2 linked regions of the Homo sapiens genome follow. The protein of the gene in region 2 purifies or fractionates together with the protein of the main gene of each other region. This does not show direct contact. Each region holds a gene or a part of one and is shown on either strand. Other genes may lie near its edges.

Region 1 (3,429 bases), on a different chromosome or scaffold from region 2:
CAGGAAAGAGAGGAAGTAAACCCAGAGAGAACGTCCTGATGACAGCTGTGCAGCAAGCCTGGAGAGGGTACCTGGAAGCCATCTGAGAAAAACAATAGAGATTGGGTCCTGGAGACCTAACAGAAGTGATGTAGTCATATAGTGGAGAAGGTAAAAGGGACCCTGGTTCTCTCTGATGGAGATTCCACCCCCTTGGGGTCCTATTCAATGAGACACAAGCTCTGTGCAATTATGGAAAGTACTCAATACGGCTGGATGAATGAATGGGACATCCAGGCCAAGAAAGAGACATCCTTTCCACAGTGCCTCATGGGGCTTCCTGCTCTGAGTCTCTCAGGAATGGGAGCAAGAATTCTCAAGCGCCTTACTATGCCCAGCAGAATCCTTTAGAACCCAGCCACTGCCAGGATCACCAGCCAGTCCCTTGGAAGAGGCAGTGACAGACAGACAGACAGTCTGGGTAGATGGCCAGGAGCAAATAAGACAAGACACACAGCAAATGTGGTTGAGGCTTTACTTCCATCAGGTAGGCCTAAGGCAGGGACCATGCTGCAGGAGCAGGGCCTGTAAACCAGTCAATGCTGCTCCTTCATGCAACACGGGGACAGCTCGGGGCTGAGCTCCACAGGCGAGGGGCCAGGCAGGCCCTTTAAAGCAGACACAACCACTAACAGGAAGGAAGGTCAGGCTGGCTTTAGTGCAGGGAAGGGTAATGATGGGAGGGGATGTTCACGAAGGATAGTGGGTAGCTGAGGCTTCAAAGGGCCTGCATGGGACAGGGGTTTAGGGGGAGTGAAGAGGGACAATGAAGTCTTGGGAGTAAAGATGGGAATAAACAGGAGAAAGGAACGAGGAGGCAGGTGCTGGGATGCAGAGTCCAGCTGCGCTGCACAGCCTGGGCAGCAGGCTGAGTATGGGCTCCTCACTCCCACCTCCTGGCCTTCAAGGCCCTACTTGTTGCCCCAGACAGCCATCTTTGAGAACACAGGTCTTGGGAGGAAGCGGCTGGACTTCATGTAGGCAGAGATCTTCTCCAAGCCCTGAGAGGGGGGAAAATAAGGCCAGAACTCAAGGTCAGCTGCCCATGAGGGCTGGGACAACCCCACTGCAGACACAGCAGGTCAGGGCCCTGGCCACAGCCTTTCCATGTGGGCTCAAGTGCTGAGGCATCACACAGCTTCTTAGGGTCCCCAGATTTGCGGAGTTAACTCTTCCAACTTCCTTTAAGTAATGTTGTACCACAGTAACAGCTAACACTTATGAAGATTCTACACGGTGCTGGGTGCTCTGTACCCAAGAGAAATTACAACGTAAGCTTAGAAAACCCACTCGACTGCTCTGCAAGGCTGAATCTATTATCACCATTTCTCATGTGGGAAACAGAAGTTCAGCAACTTCCTTACATTTAAATACCTAGTAAGGGGAATAGAACTGCAGTGTAGCCTGGTTCTGTCTCTCTCCAGTTCTGGCCTCTTCCTGACAAATTCTCTTCTTCTTCTGCCCCACCACCCCTCACACCAGGCCCTGTCACTCCTTGACTGCACAAACAGTCTCCTTTTCCACAGGGAGGCTCTTGGCTTGTCTGGGTATAGAGACACAGAAGGGACCTCCAGCAGAACAAAGGGGCTCTGAACACACTCACCCAATGTCTCAGTAAAACCTGGATGAAAGTGGAATGGGGGGTGGCAGTGCACAAGAAAATCAAAGGCGAGACTAGGCTCTAAACATTCCCCTTAAAGCAGAAAGTCCAAAGTTCTCCATCTAATACCTGAGCAAAATCTCACTGTGCCCTAACCCATGGCATCTCCAGCCCTGCTGCAGATCAGGCTACATGATACTCAGATGTGCTGTGCACAATCTTACCAGGATTGAATGCCCAGATAAGGTATTCAAAAACATCCGGCTCACACCTGTAATCCCAGCACATTGGGAAGCCGAGGTGGGTGGATCACCCGAGGTCAGGAGTTCAAGACCACCCTGGCCAACATGGTGAAAGCCCATCTCTACTAAAAATAGAAAAATTAGCTGGGCGTGGTGATAGACACTTGTAATCCCAGCTACTCGGGAGGCTGAGGCAGAGAATTGTTTGAACCCGGGAGGCAGAGGTTGCAGTAAGCCGAGGTCACGCAACTGCACTCCAGCCTGGGCAACAGCAAGACACGATCTCAAAAAAAAAAAAAAAAAAAAGATCCAGGACTGCCTGTTCTCAAACTGATTGACCCTGGCATGTCATAGGCCATAGACCTCAGCTCTCCTCCACCCCTCCCTTCCCACCACCTCTTACATAACTCCAAGGCCACTAAGCCTGGACCAGAACCAGAGCTGATGGGAACTAGCTGAGCAAGCAGATTTCTTGATGGGAAAGGGAAACAGATTCTAGGCTCAGAAGCCCGTTGGACTAATGCCTCAAATTCCCAGATCTGTACTAAAGTAGGATTTGTGCTCTGAAACAAGATCAGCAAGGGTGAGGGATGGTTCCCCGTGAGTGAGGGGCAGGCCCCGGGCCTGGTACCCAGGTGGTGCCACACACACCTCACAGGCTGCTCTGCCTGCAGCCCTCTCACTGCACTCATTTCCAGGATGGGGCAGTCATCTATACATCTCCCACTGTGCCTCACTCCCTGCCTCATGCAGAGAAGGTCGGTGAATAGGAGTAAAATCAGCATGCTACTCATCTCACAGGGGGAACACGTGGAACACTGGAGGGAAAAAAGAGGAAGAGGAGTGGCTCATATCTGTAATCCCAGCACTGAGGGAGGCTGATGTGGGCAGATCACCTGAGGTCAGGAGTTCGAGACCAGCCTGACCAACATGGCAAAACCCCATCTCTACTAAAAATACAAAAATTAGCCAGACGTGGTGGTGCACACCTGTAATCCCAACTAATCGTGCAGCTGAGGCAGTAGAATCGCTTGAACCCAGGAGGCGGAGGTTGCAGTGAGCCAAGATCACTCCATTGAACTCCAGCCTGGGCAACAGAGCAAGACTCCAGCACAAAAAAAAAAAAAAAAAAAAAAAAAGAATAGAGGTGGAGTAAGGAAGTGCCCCAGCACCGGGCATTTCAACATATACTCCTTCAACAGGGACACCCACATATGTACCTTAATCCAGCTACAGCCACAGCCCTGGCTCTCAGGATTCCCCACACTGGGGTCCAATCATGCAAAGCTTCTGGAGGTAGCTATGAATATTGCCTGTGGGTTCAGTACTAGACATCAATGTCACCGTTGTGTCAGTCCTACTATTGCCAGCTCCATCTATGGTCATGAAGTTCTCTGCCTCTTCCAAAGTGTCCTGGGCTGTGAAACCCAGGCTAGGTGAAGCCTAAGGCTTTTTCTTCTGTCACAAATGGGAGAGCCCTGACTGCCACCCATAGATCCAGAGGCTCACAGGGAGCCCAGCACAGCCTCCACTAGCTCTGGGACCCTG
Region 2 (3,500 bases):
ACCACTACGTGAAGTTCAAGGGGGGACGTGGTTTTGAGCTCAATGCAAGGAAAATTTTTCTATCAGAAAAGGCCATATCTGACATTGGAAAATGCAAGTGGAGATTGAATGTGCATTCGTAGAGGGGATTCAGGTGTGGTGTGGGGTGGGGTGAGGAGAAGACCAGAGAGGCATCAGGCTGTAGAGAAAAGAAAGGAGGGGTGTGGGGTCATACAGACTGGTTGGAATCCCAGTTTGGCCACTTGGCTGTGTGACCTTAGGAAGTCACTTAGCCTCTCTGAAACTCAGTATCTTCATCTACAAAACAATATGGTGATATGGAGCTTCTGGGCTTGAGATCTGTGATTTCATACCCCCTACCTTCCCAGCCCAAGGCCAGGTTTGAGTGGGTAGCCTCTCTGAAGGAGCTGGACCAAGGACCAGGAGACCAGGGTACCAGGGCCTGGGTAGGACAGGAAATCTGGTGCCTCTACCCTCTGCTGCCTTCTGGACAGGTCTGCTAACTCGTCAGGCCCCAGTCCCCTTTGCCTGTGACAATAAACTCACCCGTAATCTGGGAACATATCCAGCTCTCTGGGGGTCAGCTTCCGAAATCCCAGAACTGTGTCCTTCCAGGAAGGGTCCTGAAGAGGAAGGACAAAGGGGGCACTGGGTGGGATGGAAGTCAATAATAATGATAATGGGCCAGGCGAGGTGGCTCACACCTGTAATCCCAGCACTTTGGGAAGCTGAGATGGGTGGATCACCTGAGGTCAGGAGCTCCAGACCAGTCTGGCCAACATGGTGAAACCCTGTTTATACTAAATAATAATACAAAAATTAGCAAGATATGGTGGTGCATGCCTGTAATCCTAGATACTCAGGAGATTGAGGCAGGAGAATTGCTTGAATCTGGGAGCTGGAGGTTGCAGTAAGCCGAAATTGTGCCGCTGCACTCCAGCCTGGGCCACAGAGCGAGACTTCATCTCAAAAAAAAAAAAAATGATAATGACAGAGACTTATGTAATGCTAAGTGCATATAAGGCACTGTTCCAAGCATTTTCTTATACTGGTCCATTTAATCTTCACAAGAAGCCATTGGGGTGGATGCTATTCTTTCCCCAGTTTACAGATGGACCAATTGAGGCTTAGAAAGATTAAATAACTTGTCTAAGATTACACAGCTAATAAATGGTGGTGTTGGGATTTTAACCCATACAGCTTAGTTCCAGAGTTCATGTTCTTAACCCCTATTTATGGTAAGGGTAAGAGTAAGACCGAGGGTGAGTTATAGGGGAAAAGTCAGAAATAGGGGAGAGAAAGCAGAAACAGTGAGAGTCCCCGGGGATGAGAGAAAGCAACAGAGCATAGTGTCAGACAACAGAGCATAGTGTCAGAGACCCCAGCCTCATCACTTGCTACTTGAATTCTCTGAGACTCAGTTTCCTTGTCTGTATCATGGAGTTAATAATCACTCTTGGCCGGGTGCAGTGGTTCACGCCTGTAATCCCAGCACTTTGGGAGGCCAAGGCAGGCAGATCACTTGAGGTCAGGAGTTCGAGACCAGCCCGGCCGTCATAGTGAAACCCCATCTCTTAAAAATACAAAAATTAGCCAGGCGTGGTAGTGCGCACCTGTAATCCCAATTACTCAGGAGGCTGAGACAGGAGAATGGCTTGAACCCAGGAAGCAGAGGTTGCAGTGAGCCGAGATCATGCCAATGCACTCCAGCCTGGGCAATACAGTGAGACCCTGTCTCAAAAAAAAAAAAATACTCTTGGTCCCATGAAAGGTAACAGATAATGTGGATAAAGCCCTTAGCACAGTGCCAAAGGTTGAATGAACCTTGAGAGCTGGCACGGGGCTCTGGGCACAGCGCCAGACCACCCTCTCCAAGGAGCCTGAGCAAACCGTCCCAGGGCTGTGCTGTTCCTGTTAGCACACTGGACACCATGGAGTCACAGATGGCCTGGGTTCAAATCCCAGCTCTGCCACTGGCGAGCTCTGTGGCCTTGGGCAAGTTACTCCATTTCTTGGAGCCTCCGTTTTCTCATTTATTAAGTGAGGATAAGGACAGCCCTTACCTCCCGGTTATAAAGAGAATTAAATTAGTCGCTAGCTGTAAATTAGTTAGGACTGGACCTGGCACATAATAAATGCTTTGGCAGTTTTTGCTTTGATGAGTATTTTATTCCTTCTTGATAAAAAGCCTTGGGACCTTCAGGGGCACTTGAAACCTTTTGGCTTCAGCACCAAGTGCCCGTCACTGCAGAACATGTTTGTATTTTAGCCATGCTAATCAAAGGCTAGTTTCCCCTGGGCATCAGAAGATTCTTTGTCCTCTGCCAATTTAACAGCAAAATGTAAAACAAAAATAATTTTCAAAGCAAAAATAGAATTTAAACCAAACCTGTTTTGAACCCAGGAGTCTGTTGCCTACGAGACTCAAAGCACCCCGCCCTCATCTGTGATTAAGGCTCTGCTGCACCCACCCTCACTACCCCAGCCCTGGGTGCTCATCCCTCATGGTCAAGAACTGTTCACCCACCGGAATGGCTTCATGGAAGAGGTTGTAGCCCGAGATTAGGAACAGGCCCAGGTTTTCAGCGTTGGGAGAATGGACATGGCTCAGGAGATAGTCAAAGGTCTGTTGGCTCCAGTCCCTGGAAGGGTCATGAAGAGTTCGATCACCCAATGCCCTGAGCTGGGCAAAAAACCTTAGGTCAGCTGGCATGGGGCTGTGGCATGATCAGGAGCTTGGGGTGTGTCCAAAACCCAGAAATCCACCACGTTCACTCCTGCAACTCCCCAAATGCCTTGGGTCTTCTCCCTCCTAAATTTTCCAATATTTCCCCATTAATAGAATAAAGAAGAGAGGGAATGAAGGATGCCCCATCATAACCATATGGAGTGCACCTCCAGCATGGGATTACATGGCTGATGAGTTTCAGTGAAGTCCTTGACCTGGCTTTGGGGATTATGAGCCACACTGTTCAGTCTGGCTGCAAGCACCCCTCCTTGTAAACACTGGTGGCAGACATCGACTTGCCGCTCCTACAACTTTTCCTCCTCCCCCTGGGCACACAGCTCACCTACATTTCCTAGACCCTCTCGCAGCTAAATGTGACTGTGTGACTTGTTTCTGGCCAAGGGACTCTAAAGACTCTGCACGTGTGGTCCTGCATGATCCTTCTGCAGTCACCAGCCCATGTGAATGGTGACATTGAGGTGACCTCAAAAGCACGTGGAAAAACGGCAGAGCCATTAGATGGAAGGAGCCTGGGCCCCGAATCACTGCCCACTGATCAGAATCATTGGTTTTTTACAGCTGTGTGAATTAAAATTCTGGCTGGTTGCAGTGGCTCATGCCTATAATCCCAGCTCTTCAGGAGGCTGAGGCAGGAGGGTCACTTGAGGTCAGGAGTTTGAGACAAGCCTGGGTAACATAGGAAGACCCTGGCTCTACAAAAAATAAAGAAAATTATCCAGGCATGATAGCATGCATGTGTGTCCTCGCTACT

What was found.
Region 1: the proteins of DAO (region 2) and GSTM1 purify together in Homo sapiens (affinity purification with mass spectrometry; one large-scale study listed by BioGRID and IntAct). This does not show direct contact.

Annotation. Positions count from the first base shown.
Region 1 is NC_000001.11:109,690,817-109,694,245, reverse strand, and holds the end of GSTM1 (glutathione S-transferase Mu 1), read right to left. Parts: intron 1,041-3,429; coding exon 951-1,040; 3' UTR 501-950; downstream 1-500. UniProt on the Homo sapiens protein: Conjugation of reduced glutathione to a wide number of exogenous and endogenous hydrophobic electrophiles. Involved in the formation of glutathione conjugates of both prostaglandin A2 (PGA2) and prostaglandin J2 (PGJ2).
Region 2 is NC_000012.12:108,886,592-108,890,091, reverse strand, and holds part of DAO (D-amino-acid oxidase), read right to left. Parts: intron 2,643-3,500; coding exon 2,528-2,642; intron 624-2,527; coding exon 547-623; intron 1-546. UniProt on the Homo sapiens protein: Catalyzes the oxidative deamination of D-amino acids with broad substrate specificity. Required to catabolize D-amino acids synthesized endogenously, of gastrointestinal bacterial origin or obtained from the diet, and to use these as nutrients.